Homo sapiens: one gene and its partners. The gene in region 4 interacts genetically with the main gene of each other region. Each region holds a gene or a part of one and is shown on either strand. Other genes may lie near its edges.

Evidence for each region. A genetic interaction does not mean that the proteins touch.
Region 1: changes in TRAPPC13 (region 4) and TRAPPC9 together harm fitness more than expected from each alone (negative genetic interaction), as found in Homo sapiens cells (one large-scale study listed by BioGRID).
Region 2: changes in TRAPPC13 (region 4) and CTBP1 together harm fitness more than expected from each alone (negative genetic interaction), as found in Homo sapiens cells (one large-scale study listed by BioGRID).
Region 3: changes in TRAPPC13 (region 4) and RAB5C together harm fitness more than expected from each alone (negative genetic interaction), as found in Homo sapiens cells (one large-scale study listed by BioGRID).

The regions. Positions count from the first base shown.
Region 1 is NC_000008.11:140,370,745-140,374,419, forward strand, and holds part of TRAPPC9 (trafficking protein particle complex subunit 9), read right to left. Parts: intron 437-3,675; coding exon 220-436; intron 1-219. UniProt on the Homo sapiens protein: Functions as an activator of NF-kappa-B through increased phosphorylation of the IKK complex. May function in neuronal cells differentiation. May play a role in vesicular transport from endoplasmic reticulum to Golgi.
Region 2 is NC_000004.12:1,211,131-1,214,805, forward strand, and holds the end of CTBP1 (C-terminal-binding protein 1), read right to left. Parts: intron 3,344-3,675; coding exon 3,213-3,343; intron 2,476-3,212; coding exon 2,348-2,475; intron 1,901-2,347; coding exon 1,783-1,900; intron 1,641-1,782; exon of another isoform or gene 1,545-1,640; intron 1,410-1,544; exon of another isoform or gene 1,297-1,409; coding exon of another isoform or gene 1,294-1,296; coding exon 1,110-1,293; 3' UTR 315-1,109; downstream 1-314. UniProt on the Homo sapiens protein: Corepressor targeting diverse transcription regulators such as GLIS2 or BCL6. Has dehydrogenase activity. Involved in controlling the equilibrium between tubular and stacked structures in the Golgi complex.
Region 3 is NC_000017.11:42,144,990-42,148,664, forward strand, and holds part of RAB5C (ras-related protein Rab-5C), read right to left. Parts: intron 1-3,675. UniProt on the Homo sapiens protein: The small GTPases Rab are key regulators of intracellular membrane trafficking, from the formation of transport vesicles to their fusion with membranes.
Region 4 is NC_000005.10:65,631,439-65,635,113, reverse strand, and holds part of TRAPPC13 (trafficking protein particle complex subunit 13), read right to left. Parts: intron 1-3,675.

The DNA.
Region 1 (3,675 bases), on a different chromosome or scaffold from region 4:
CCACTGATAAAGATTCAAGAATCCGAGCCCCAAGGCAAAGCACCAGTACTTTTTCCTATAATCGGATTACAGCAGGCACCCAACTCCAGGGCAGGGATCTAGTCATTCTGGAGCCACCAGCACCAACCACGATGTCTGCCACTCAGGGCAGGGGCTGAAACAGCATGTGACCATCAGACAGAAAGCAACACCTTAGCGCCAGCAAGGGGACTCCAGTACCTCTGCTGAAATCTTTGGGATCCAGCGACAGACTGTAGCCGGGCAGCGTTTCCAGGAGGAGTTTGTAGCAGGCCCTCCACCCAGGCTCCGCGATGCTTGGGGCCACGCACTGCATGGCGGCCACGCGCTTGAAGAACGCAGACTTGCGATGGAAGCCGATCAGCTCATAGAGCTCGGAGAGGATGCTGTAGCGCTGAATTTTCTCTTCCTCAGAAAGCTGAAGCACAGAGAGAAAGTAAAAAGCTTTTGAAAGAAACGTATAAGTGAAAAAAGAAGCACACATTAAAAATGTCTCTTCATAAAACAAAGACCTGAGGAGAATCGAGGAGAATCAAGGAGAGGGAAAGCCTGGTGAGCAGCGCATGGCGCAGGCCCCAGGTGGCTTCAGACCTTCCCCAGCCACAGCTGCAGGTGCAGCCCATCTTCCTGCTGATAAAGCCCAGATTCTCTGCTACAAAGGTACCTGCTACAAATCTGAGACCTCTACTTTAAGTTCCTTCACAAAAGAAAAGAAAAGGAACAAGAGTTCATCTACACAACAGGATTTTATCAAGGTCTCTCATCAAACACAAAAATTCTTAAAACACAAGAAGACACAGAATCATGTAACTGGGTAATGAATTATTAACAATACCACTGATATCAGACTTAAGACTTCAGGGTTTACAAAAGTTTTCTTTCATCCAAGACCCAACTGAATCCTCCCAACAACCCTGTAGTGTAGCAATCATAACTTCTGTTTCTTTTCTTTTTTTTTTGAGACGGAGTCTCACTCTGTCACTCAGGCTGGAGTGCAGTGGTACGATCTTGGCTCACTGCAACCTCCACCTCCCGGGTTCAAGAGATTCTCCTGCCTCATCCTCCAGTGTAGCTGAGATTACAAGCACCCACCCCCATGCTGGCTAATTTTTGTACTTTCAGTAGAGACGGGATTTCACCATGTTAACCAGGCTGGTCTCGAACTCCTGACCTCAGGTGATCTGCCTGCCTCAGTCTCCCAAAGTGCTGGGATTACAGGTGTGAGCCACCACGCCCAGCCAACAACTTCTGTTTCTTCAGCACCTACTGTATGGCAGCAGACTTAACGTACCTGATTTACTCAATACAAGCATCCTGTGAGCTGGCAAATAAGGACATTAACAGCTCAGGGACACATTAATCACCTGTGCAAAATCACACAGCCAAGAAGTATCAGGGACAAGACCTGACTCTGGGCCTGGGCCCTGCCCACTGCACAGCGCCTTCAGAGAAGAAGGAAGGCAGAGCCCACTCTGCTGCTCCAGGAGCACTGTTAAGGAAGCGCTTCTCTCCCTCCTCTGCCCTGGACGATGAATGTTTCCCTGATGTTTCTGTGAGTACAGAGCCTTAGCTTGAACGCCCTTCCAACTTGGGCCTCCAAACCCTCCCTCCATCCCCTCTCCTCCGCGCTCACTGCCATGGCCTCGATGGGGCCCTCGTCAGCCCTCATCTGGAAGAGGAATCGGCATTGTCTTCCTACCACCTCTCGACCTTCCTTCACCTGTCCACACACCCCTGCCAGACTTAGGTTCCTGAGACATGGCTCAGAGCCCATCACCCGAGCCACGGTTTGAATGTTTGTGCCTCCCCAAAATTCACATGTTGAAAGCCTAGCCCCCAAGGTGATGGAATTAGGAGGTGGGGACTTTAAAAAGTGATTGGGTCAGGGGGTGAAGCACTCACAAATGGAATTAGTGCCCTTATAAGAAGAGACCCTAAAGAGCTAGCTCACCTGTTGCACCATGTGAGAACACAGAGAAAAGACGGCGGTCTATGAACAAGCAAGTGGGCCCTCCCCAGACACCAAACATGCTGGCACCTGGATCATGGACTTCTAGCCTCTAGAACTGTGCACAATACATTTCTATTGTTTATCAGCCACCCAGTCTGTGGCATTTTGTGACAGCAGCCTCACCGGACTAAGACAATCCCCATCTTGAAACCACTAGACCCCTTCAGGACTGTAAAATGGAGCCCAAATGCCTTCACGGGCATGCCAGGCCCTCCTCAGCCCCAACCTGCTCTGGAAATTCGAGGCCCCACTGCCTACCTATGACCTCACCAGACTGAACAACTTTAACTCATTTGTTTTCTCATTCTGTCAACACATATTTACTGAACCCCTACTCTGGTGCCAGCCACTCTTGTGGCAGAGGATACAGCAGTGAGCAAAACAAGCTAAGACTCCTACCCCTGGGGGCCTCCATGCTAATGACAGGCTAGTCCCCTGGCTTAGAATCAGTGGGGAGGATGACAATAAATCAATGAAAAAATAAACAAAATAGCTGCTCTAAGTCCAATGAAATACTCTTTGACATAGAATCATGGGTGGAAGCGTATGAGGCAGGCTGTACTAGGTGACGCCGCCGGGGCACACAGGCTCTCTGCTCCTGCAATGCCTCCACAGCCACATCTGGCTCTCCCTTTGGACACTCGGTTCCAATGCCACCCTCTCCAAGAAGCTGGTCCTCATGCCCTTCAGCGGGAAGCTGCTGCTTCTTTCCCTAAATTCTCCTAACCATGCTGGACTCCATAATGTCCTTTCTCTGTGTCTCCCACACAATTTACCTACATATCGGATCTCTGCCAGCCCCACTTTTCCTACAGTGAAAGGTCATGCCGACGCCGACGATGTGTGAGAATCCCTGTTGCTCCACCTGCTCACCAGCATATGAGGATATCACCTGCTCACCAGCATATGAGGATATCACCTGCTCACCAGCATATGAGGATATCAGTCTTTTTTATTTTAGACGTTGTGGTGGCTTTAACTTCCATTTCCCTGAAAACTAATGATGTTGAACCTTTTTCATATGATCACTGGCCACTGGTATATCTTCCTTTGTGAAGCGCTTGTTCAAATCTTCTGACAGTTTTTAAAATTAGATCGTTTGTTTTATTACTGAGTCGTACGAGTTCTGTATATATTCTGAATGCAAGTCCTTAGTTATATGTGTTTTGCAAATATTTCCTCCCGGTCTGTTGCCGATTTATTTCCCTAAGGGAGTGTTCATAAGCAAAAGCATTTCTCTGTGATGTAGCTCAATCTATCAGCTTTTTCTTCTATGGTTAGTGCCTTCTATGTCCTCATCTGAGAAAAATCTTTGCCCGAGGTCACAAAGATATCCTATGTTTTCATCTAGAAGTTGTTGTCTAGGTCTATGGTCCGTGAATATTCAAATTTGAGTAGGACATGGCCTGTCCCTTTCCAGGAGTGTGCAGTACAGCAGCGAACAGAAGCCCCAGTGCTGGAGGACAGCAGCCAGGGACGGGGTGGAAGAGGACTGTAAAGAGGAGGCAGGGGTTGGCCGGGCGCAGTGGCGCACACCTGTAATCCCAGCACTTTGGGAGGCCGAGGCAGGCAGATCACCTGAGGTTGGGAGTTCGAGACCAGCCTGACCAACATGGAGAAACCCCGTCTCTACTAAAAAATACAAA
Region 2 (3,675 bases), on a different chromosome or scaffold from region 4:
GGCAGGACCTCAGCCAGTCACACCATCATCCACACAACGGCCCGGCTGGCACACTGCTTCCCTCCCACTGGGGCACTGCGGGCAGGCCGCCTCCAAGCCAGGACCCTACAGCGTCCCACAGACCCAGTGGGCAGAGGGACAGGCCCGGTACACACAGAGACCACTGCCCAACCTGCCACTGCACTGTCTCTGGGTCTCTCTTAGGCCGCCCACTTCAGAGAGGCTGAGCTGAGCCGTGGAGGTCACCAGAGCCAGGACTGAGGCTCACCCGTGTCCTCATGAGAGAAAGTCACCAGAATAGATGCTGGGCACGCTGGCTCTTTCCAGGATTTTTATTTCTTTAAAATAATTCATACAAATGGTTACAGTCACAAACATGATTTTAACCAAAATATTGCTAGCCTACCACATCAGCAGGACGGCACTGGTGCAGGCGGGGACGCTGCCACCCTCCACGTCCCCAGGACAGACGTCGATGGGCAGCGGGCACGCTGGGCACCGCCCAAGCTTTTCCTTTTGGAGCTGCTTCGTGATGCCGTCTTCATTTGGAACAAGGGGGGGTTCATGCCAAAATTAGGAAAAACAGCCTTTGTTTTGTTTTTCTAAATTATTCTAAAAATAAGACAAGCAGGTAGAAAAAACAATGCACTGTGTGGCATAAAAAGAAAAACGGGAAGGATTCATTGTCCTGAGAAGTTTGCCAACTGCCTCATTCTGGGGCACGTTCCAACATACAAAAAAAAAAAAAACAAAAAAAAAAACCTCAAATTGACTTCCAAATGCTCCTTCAGGTTTTCTTTTTGTTGACAGCTAAGCAAACAGATCCTTTGTAATGTTCTAAAAACTGTACACAGACAAGAACGTTCATGGGAGAATAACTACTGACTTCTTCTGCTTAACGAGGAACGCGAAGGACACAGGGCAGAGCGCCCACAGGACGGACGACGACAAGCGACACGAGGCCCAGCGCTGCCCCCTCCCGCCTCCTGACAGCCCGGACCAGTCTCTGCAGTGCCAGGGCCACCACACAGATGCCTCCTCCACACACTCTGGTCCGAGGGTTTCCGGGCCCTCTGCCCAGGCGCCGAGGCTGGAGAGCTCCTCCCGGGCTACAACTGGTCACTGGCGTGGTCTCTATCCGCCTCGGGCTTGACGGTTTGGCCAGGAGAAGGGGCGTGGGGCGGGTGGGCCACAGGGGGCAGGCCGTGGGACAGGGACATGGCGCTGGGGACGATACCTTCCACAGCAGCTGGGATGCCAGTGGGGGCCACGCCCACCACGCCCGGAGGGTACCTGCTGGGAGAGGGTCCATCCGTGAGGCCCACCTGTAGGCGGCCTGGCCAGGCCCCACCTGCCCTCCTAGCATCGGCAGCACCGAGGGGGCCTCTCCAGGAGGACCAGCAGTCAGGGTAAGGATCCCGGCCTTTACACGGATGTTCCTGCCTATGGCAGCTACTTCTCAGGGCTGGGGAGGGGAGCCCTGGTGTCTCCAGGTGACTTGAACATGAGGTCTTCGCCTCACCCAAAGCCCCCTCCTCCCACAGGCCCCGTGCCCATGGCACTCCTGTGTCCACTGAGCCCTGAAGGCCACCCCAGCCCAGGCTCCTTCCAAGAGGCCCTGGTTCTCATGGGCCTTTCAGGTGAGGTTGGCCTTACCAATTCTACCCAGATCCTCCAGGTCAGTCAGTGGAGACGCCGCCCCTCCCACCAGGGGCTGTGCTGGGATCCAGGGGAAGCCTGGGGCCCTCCTGGAGGCTGTTCTGGGCCAGCGGGCCTGCTCACCTATAGGCAGCCCCATTGAGCTCAGGGTGCACGACGGCGGGGTCCATGCTGGCCCAGTGGGTGGCGGCTGTCAGATGGTCCTTGTTGACACAGTTCTTCAGGCTGTCTGGGATCCGGCCTGGGAGATGCAGGAGGAAGGAACAGCTGTGGCTCTGAGGGGGCCCCAGGAGCGTGGCCCACTGGGTTGAAGACACGGGCAGCAGGATTCTTGGCAGTGTGCTCCTCCCTCTCAGCCCCGGGGCTCCCAAGGCACGGCAGGGTCCTGTCTCTCTGGGCACTGGCACCCTTGCAGCGTGGGGACCCCCAGCCCAGAGCACGTGCCCAGCTTGCTGAGGGACCTGTCTGCTCAGCCCAGCAACTTCCCAGCAGGTCCTGTGTGTAAGACACGACGCCAGGGCTCAACTTGACTTTGGCCTTAGAGGTCCCTGCTGGGGGTGCAGTGAGAGCACCACGGGCCCTGAGCTGGCAGAACATGGGCCTGGCTGCCAGGCGGATGCGAGCCCATGAGCATCTGGGGCTGGCAGGAAGGGACCCCCAGGCCTGACCGAGCGGCCCCCACGCCCACCTGTGATGGCTCTGCGGATCTCCCGTGCCGCCTCCTCTCGCATCTCGATGGATGCCTGCTCGCTGTACCATGCAGCATGGGGGGTGCAGATGAGGTTGGGTGCATCCTTCAGAGGGCCCTGGCTAAAGCTGGGAACAGCACAGGCATGGTCAGTGCAGCCTGAGTGCTGTGGCTGGGTACGGAGGGGAGGTGGCTGGGCACTGGAACCCCCTGTGGGGGGCCCTGCCTGGGAACCACAGACCCCACGGCCCTGCTCTGCTCGGCAGGCTGGCTGAGCTCAAGAGCACAGCCCCGGGACCATCAGACACACCAGGGGCTCCTGACAGCGGCGGGTGTGGGAGCCCAAGGGATTTAATCTCCAAGTCCCTCGTGGGAGGAGCCCTGATGGGGGGACATGCTGCCTGGCCCCTTCCAGCCAAAGGGTCTGTAGCCCCAGGAGCTGCAGGCTGATACTGCCCCTGTGGGGGTGTCTCCTCTTGCGGCTGAACATCCAACCCAGGGCTGCCTGGGGTCCCAAGGTGCTGTAGGGGCTGCAGGTCTGGACGGGATGCCATGACTCCATGGCCAGGGCCCATGGGGACCACTCACAGACACTGGGGCCTCACTCTCTCCTGGTTGGTCAGGAGCCCTGCCCAAAGAAGGGCTGAGGAGGTTGAGCAGCCCCTCACAGGACCGAGGCAAGGCAGGCCTAGAGCCCGTGGCTCCATCCTCACCCCGCAGCGGGCGGCAAACTCCCCCACTGCTGGCCAGCGAGAGGCCTGAGTACAGGCAAGTGTCCGGCCTGGCAGAGGCGCCGTCTGGAGGTCAAGGCCGGCAGGATGGTGGACAGGGAAGAGCAGGGGGGCGGCACTGGCCGTGGGGGCACCTGAAGGGTTCCGACTCGTGCACATCCAGGGCCGCGCCGCGGATCCGGCCCTCCTTCAGGGCCTGGGCCAGCGCCTTCTCATCCACCAGGCCACCCCGGGCTGTGTTCACCAGGAAGGCCCCTTGTCTCATCTAGAAGACATAAGGACAGGCCAGGCCCAGTCAGGGATCCGCACAGGGCGGGCAGCCAGGGAAGCAAGGTGGTCACGCACGCCGTTGGGAAGGCCCAGCTCCCTAGCCCCTTCCCAGCCCCACCCTGGGCTCACCACGGCGCTAGGACTGAAGGCCTCGGGCGTGCTGCACCGCGGCCCTGACAGGCTGGCTGAGGATCTGCCCTGTATGGACCTGCACGGCCCCACAGCTCCTAGAGAGCTCCACCCTCCTGCCCAAGCCCTGAGCTGAGGACTGGGCGGGGGCTCCTGGCTTGGTCCCCCTGTGGTACCCCTTTTCTGGGTCCCCTCCAG
Region 3 (3,675 bases), on a different chromosome or scaffold from region 4:
TCTCTACTAAAAAAAATACAAAAAAATTAGCCGGGTGTGGTGGCGCGCGCCTATAGGCCTGTAGTCCCAGCTACTCGGGAGACTGAGGCAGGAGAAAGGCGTGAACCCGGGAGGCGGAGCTTGCAGTGAGCCGAGATTGCGCCACTGCACTCCAGCCTGGGCGATGGAGTGAGACTCCATCTCAAAAAAAACAGAAAAAGAAAAAATAATTTAGTAACTCATGTAGCTACTCCGCCCTCAACAAGGGGAACATGAACATAAGTCCCTGTTCCTTAGGTGTGGGCTACACAGTGACTTTCTTCCAAAGGGTGCATGCAGCATGGAAAGGGGAAGGGGAGAACAACTTTACAGAGAAGCCTCACACACATCACCTCAGCCAAGTGATCATGGTTGACATCAGTCATGGAAAGGCTTGTGGATTGTATGTACCCTTGACATGATGTGATGAAAATAGCACTTTACCTCTCTGGTCCTCCTTCCCAAAACTTGGCACAGTCTACTTATGAAAAAAACACTGGACACAGCCAGGCGTGTTAGCTCACGCATGTAATCCCACCACTTTGGGAAGCTGAGGTGAGCAGATCGCTTGAGCTCAGGAGTTTGAGACCAGCCTGGACATCATGGTGAAACCTTGTCTCTACAAAAATTAGCCAGGCGTGGTGGTGCATTTCTGTAGTCCCAGCTACTTGGGAGGCTGAGGAGAATGGCTTGAGCCGAGATTGCACCACTGCACTCCAGCCTGGCTGACAGAGCAAGACTCTGTTAAAAAGAGAAAAATACTGGACAAATCCCAGTTGAGAAGAGATTCTCTTTATTTTTTATTATTTTTTTTGAGACGGAGTCTCATTCTGTCTCCAGCCCAGGCTGGAGCACAGTGACACGATGTTGGCTCACTGCAACCTCTGCCTCCTGGTTCAAGCGATTCTTGTGCCTCAGCCTCCTGAGTAGCTGAGATTACAGGTGCGTACCACCATGCCTGGCTAATTTTTGTATTTTTAATAGAGATGAGGCTTCACCATGTTAGCCAGGCTGGTCTCGAACTCCTGACTTCAAGTGATCCACCCACCTCGGCCTCCCAAAGTGCTGGGATTACAGGCGTGAGTCACCGCGCCTGGCCGAGATCCTCTTTAGATGCTTGCCCAGCACTCCTCAAAACTGTCAAGGTCATCAAAAACAATAAAAGTCTGAGAAACTGGCACAGCAAGAGGAGCCTAAAGAGACAATGAATATAGGTAACATGGGATCCTGGAACAGCAAAAGGACATCAGGTAAAAATCTAAGGAAATCTGAATAAAGGATGGACTTTAATGTAAAATACGTACTAACATAAGATGTTAATAACAGGGAAAACTATGTGTGAGGGATTGTGAGAAAACTCTGTACTATCTGCGTAACTTTTCTAAAAGTATTCTGAAAGAATAAGTTTATTAAGCCTCGGCAACATAGGGAGACCCCGTCTCTACAAAAAAATCAAAAATTGCCCAGGCACAGTGGCTCACACCTGTAATCCCAGCACTTTCAGAGGCCAAGGCAGGCAGACCACAAAGTCAAGAGATCAAGACCATCCTGGCCAACATGGCGAAACCCCGTCTCTACTAAAAATATAAAAATTAGCTGGGCATGGTGGCGTACGCCTGTAGTCCCAGCTACTCGGGAGGCTGAGGCAGGAGAATCACTTGAACCCAGGAGACGGAGGTTGCAGTGAGCCAAGATGGCATCACTGCACTCCAGCCTGGGAAACAGAGCAAGACTCCATTTCAAAAGAAAAAAAAAAAAGGAGGCCAAGGTAGGCGGATCACGAGGTCAGGAGATGGAGACCATCCTGGTTAACATGGTGAAACTCTGCCTCTACTAAAAGTACAAAAAATTAGCCAAGCGTGGTGGCAGGAGCCTGTAGTCCCAGCTACTCGAGAGGCTGAGGCAGGAGAATGGCATGAACCCGGGAGCTTGCAGTGAGCCGAGATCGTACCACTGCACTCCAGCCTGGGCGACAAGGCAAGACTTCGTCAAGAAAGAAAGAAAGAAAGACAGAAAGAAAGACAGAAAGACAGAAAGAAAGACAGAAAAAGAAAGAAAGAAAGAAAAAGAAAGAAAGAAAGAAAGAAAGAAGGAAAGACAGAAAGAAAGAAAGAAACAGAAAGAAAGAAAGAAAGAAAGAGAGAGAGAGAGAGAGAGAGAGAGAAAGAAAGAAAGACCAGCCTCAAGGTGAGCAGAGGATATCCAAGTACTGCAGGCACAGGACCAGGGAATGTTAAAGACCCCATCTGTGGAATACACATGTGAGGGCTGCTCATACCACTGGTCTGAACAGCTGCTGCCACCACTTTTTTAAGCCACCTTCACTCAGGAACGAGCCTTGTGCAGACATACAGAACAGTATCCACAGGCAGAGTCAAATTTGCTTCCACTGATCCTTGCTAAGTACTGGTCTGGGGTCGGTGCTGCCTCACCACACACAACTGCAGAAGCACGGTCGTTCTGTCCTGCCATCAGATACACACACGGCAGAAGCCAGTCAGCCGGACTGTGGCTAGTCAGGGCCGCGCCCTCATTGTCCCATTAAACCCTTCACCAGAAATGGAGATTTGGAGAGTCTTAACTTCTGGAAACTGAGTTTGTGACTTGCTTCCCATCATCCGTACTGTAACATTGATCCTATTGACCTGTTTGCTCTCCCATTTGTCTGTGAGCAACTTTCTGGGGGATGGACCAAAGATATGGCTCAAGCTGTGGGATCAGATGGATTTAAGTTTGAATCATAGGTTCACGACATCCAAAGTGTGTGAAGAAAGGAAGGGAAGTGTGTGTTAAAAGAAGTGGGCGAGGGCCAGGCATGGTGGCTTACACCTGTAATCCCAGCACTTTGGGAGGCCGAGGCGGGTGGATCACCTGAGGTTGGGAGTTCGAGACCAGCCTGACCAACATGGAGAAACCCCATCTCTAATAAAAATACAAAAAATTAGCCGGCCGTGGTGGCACATGCCTGTAATCCCTGCTACTTGGGAAGCTGAGGCAGGAGAATCTCTTTAACTCGGGAGGCGGAGGTTGTGGTGAGCTGAGATTGTGCCATTGCACTCTAGCCTGGGCAACAAGAGCAAAACTCTGTCTCAAAAACAAACAAAAAAAAAGAAGTGGGCAAGGCTGGGCACAGTGGCTCATGCCTGTAGTCCCAGCACTGGGAGGCTGAGGCAGGCAGATCATGAGGTCAGGAGTTTGAGATCAGCCTGGCCAACATGGTGAAATCCGTCTCTACTAAAAATACAAAACTAGATGGGCGTGGTGGTACACACCTGTAATCCCAGGTACTAGGGAGGCTGAAGCAGGAGAATCACTTGAACCCAGGAGGCGGAGGTTACAGTGAGCAAGATCGTACCATTGCACTCCAGCCTGGGTGAGAGGTCAAGACTCCATCTCAAAAAAAAAAAAAAAAAAAAAAAGAAGTGGGCAGGTGTTTGGTGTTTGCTTTAAGGGCAGGTTTGAATGTCTGCCCTCTCCTTTAACAACTTCAGTAGGGAGCCTACTATGCTGAGTGCCATGCCAGGTCCTAAACACACAAAGATCAAACAGGACCCGATCTGTGCCCCTAAAGGGCTCACCCACCAGAGAATGAGGCAAATAAGGAACAATGAGATAGCAGTTGAGAAGACAGCCCATGTAGGAGACAAGCCCTCAGCC
Region 4 (3,675 bases):
ACAAAATAAGCACCATTTATTTACAACCTATGAATTATAAAAATTAAATGTAAATACAATATGCATTCATTATAGAAAAACTGGAAAATATAATTTTTAAAGCTTAAAGAGTATTAGGAGCATAAGGCTTTAAAAAAATTCTAAGTGATTTCACCATAAACAATATCAACAAAATATTAACTTTGGAAACTCAGTAAGTGTTTTTTGTTTTTTTTTTGAGACAGGCTTACTCTGTCACCCAGGCTGGAGTGTAGTGGTGCGATCTCGGCTCACTGCAACCTCTATCTCCCAGGTTCAAGAGATTCTCCTGCCTCAGCCTCCTGAGTAGTTGGGATTACAGGAATGCACCACCATGCCTGGTTATTTTTTTTTTTTTTGTATTTTTAGTAGAGACGGGGTTTCACCATGTTGGCCAGGCTGGTCCCTAACTCCTGACCTCGAGTGATCTGCCTACCTTGGCCTCCCAAAGTGCTGGGATTACAGGCATGAGCCACCATGCCCGGCCAAGTGTTTCTTCAAGTAATATTAATTCTGTGTAGAAATTACAAAAATGTCAGAAAACATATACGTTTATATAATTCCAATCAAAAGTAAGATATTATTTTTGGAACATGACAGAATGTGTCTAAAGTTTATTTAGAGAAACAAATAAATGAAAATAAGCTAAGGAAATTAACGGAGAAAAAAGAGGAAGAACTGAATTTACTACATATTATAACATATTTAAGTCCATAATCAACTAATTGACTTATTAATATAAGACCATACCGATATATTAGTTTTTCAAAAAAAAGATAGGATATACTTATATAAAGAAATTGCTGGGAGTGGCCAGGCATGGTGGCTCACGCCTGTAATCCCAGCACTTTGGGAGGCCAAGGCGGGCGGATCACGAGGTCAAGAGATTGAGACTATCCTGGCTAACACGGTGAAACCCCGTCTCTACTAAAAATACAAAAAATTAGCTGGGCGTGGTGGCGGGTGCCTGTAGTCCCAGTTACTCGGCAGGCTGAGGCAGGAGAATGGCATGAAGCCGGGAGGCGGAGGTTGCAGTGAGCCGAGATTGCGGCACTGTACTCCAGCCTGGGCGACAGAGCAAGACTCCGTCTCAAAAAAAAAAAAAAAAAAAAAAAAAACGCTGGGAGAGATATTTTAAAAAACAACCTCTTGACAAAAAAAAATCAATTAAAGGATTAGAAGTTAAAAAAATCAATTAGCAAAAGGATTATTCATTATAAGGTGCAAAGACATGGTTAGCTATCTGGGAAAATAAAATTTAACTAAAAAATTCACTTTAAATATAAATAGACAAAAATTAAGCCACAGAAAAGTAAAAAAAAAGAAATTGAATATTTATTATAGTCTAATGAGTAAACACTCTATAATTTTTTTAAAAATCTTTTTCAGTTACTTCTAAAGACTGTCGTTTGACCACATCAAAATAAAAACAAAAACATAAAATTAAAAAATCATAAAAACTTGTAAAATTTTTCAGAAAATGAATCACAGAGGGCTAGTTCATTATTAAAAGTATTCCTTCAAATCTGGCTGGGCACAGTGGCTCATGCCTGTAATCCCAGCACTTTGGGAGGCCGAGGCGGGCGGATCACGAGGTCAGGAGATCGAGACCACGGTGAAACTCCGTCTCTACTAAAAATAAAAAAAATTAGCCTAGCATGGTGGCGGGCGCCTGTAGTCCCAGCTACTCGCAGAGGCTGAGGCAGGAGAATGGCGTGAACCCGGGAGGCGGAGCTTGCAGTGAGCTGAGATCGCCCACTGCACTCCAGCCTGGGCAACAGAGCAAGACCCCGCCTCAAAAAAAAAAAAATTCCTTCAAATCAAAGCCAAAATACTATAAAGACTATAGACCTACATGGTCAATTCAGAATATAAGTAATGTTCTAGCATATGTAAAAATGTACCACCCAACTACTAATTAACCAACTATGGCATTCATATCAAATTTAGTGGCTTTCTCATTCTGGTTTCAGCTTAAATGTCATCTTTTTCAGAAAAAAAGTAACAGGTCATTCTGTTTCACTCATGGTACCTTGTATTTATCATGCAGTATATTTATTTGTTTATAGCACTCCTTTCCAAACTCCATGAGGTCTAGGCTCTTATGTACTACGTTCAGTTTTGTAGCATCCATATTTGGTGTAAGTTCTGCTATTCAGATCTTCCCTGAATAAAATAATTAGCACTTCATGAAAGTCCCTAAATAACTGACATTATTTTGAAAGTGTAAGTTTCAGAAACTGAAGGCAATTAAAAACCTGCTATATTAAGCAGCTGGCTTTTGAAATAGTCAACAAATGCTACCCTTAAAATTTCTGAAGTTACTCTGTATAGCTAGCATTTACTGAGCATTTACTAGCGCCAGGCATTATGCTAAATATTTTACAAGCTGAACACATTTAATTCTCATGAGTACTCTCTAAGTTGGTATTACATTAACCCCAATATACAGATAGGGCATTGACAATACCTGCAGAGGGTAATTTGCATACAAAGGATTATATTAGTAGATAAGTGGTAGAATCTAGATTTGAACCCTGGTGATTTCACTCTGTTGAAAAATAATTCTCTATAATAATTATTAATTATAAGCCTGGAGCCATAAACCTGGAATGTCATGCCTTACCAGAAATACCCCATGGGAATTCAAAGTAGGAATGTATTCCAAAGAGTATTAATCAGCTACAGATGAATATGGGGAGGCGTTTCCAACCTTCACTCTTATTTTTAACTACGAAAACAGAGAAAAAGGTGCCCTGAAAACAGATAAAAAGGTGCCCTGAAAGTGATACACAGGAGGCAGTTTCTCCCAATTTAAACAGCTAAAATCACTAGACAGGGTCTCATTTTGTTACCCAGGTTGGACTACAGTGGCACGATCATGGCTGACTGCAGCCTTGACCTCCTGAGCTCAAGTGAACCTCCTGCCTCAGACCCACCCCCTACCCCCGCCCACCAAGAGGCTGCGACTACTGTCGCATGCCACCATGCCCGGTTAATTTTTGTAGTTTTTGTAGAGACGGAGTTTCACCATGTTGCCCAGGCTGGTAAGTTCACTTTTAGTACCAGTTGGTGTTTTCTATTTCTTCCCTATTATTTTTTTCATTTCATTAGAAAACAAATCTGAATAAAGAGAAAATACAGTCTCAAGGGAATCCTGAAACATTCCTTTTTTTTTTTTCTTAGTGTCCTGGAGTTCACCCAAACATGTAGCTAACATATTTGCTTATTATAGGTTCCAATTTCTATTATAAAGAAAAGTCCTATAAAGCTTAGTTTTTCATGATTCCTGTGGTTTAGCAGGGGATGAGATGGTGGGTAAAAAATGATCCTCCATTAAAAATAAAGTGATCCCAACTTGGTATTAAAAGCAACTTTTTTCTTCATATTTTCAGATTATGGCCTTTGCAGCAACGTAGATGCAACTGGAGGCCATTATCCTAAGCCAATTTATGCAGGAACAGAAAATCAAATACCACATATTCTCATAAGTGAGAGATAAACAATGAGTATACATGGACACAAAAAACAGAACAATAGACACTGAGGCCTATTTGAGGGTAGAAGGTGGCAGGGGGTGAGGACTAAAAAACTACCTATTGGGTATTATCCTGATTACATGGGTGACAAAACTATTTGTACACCAAACCCCTGTGG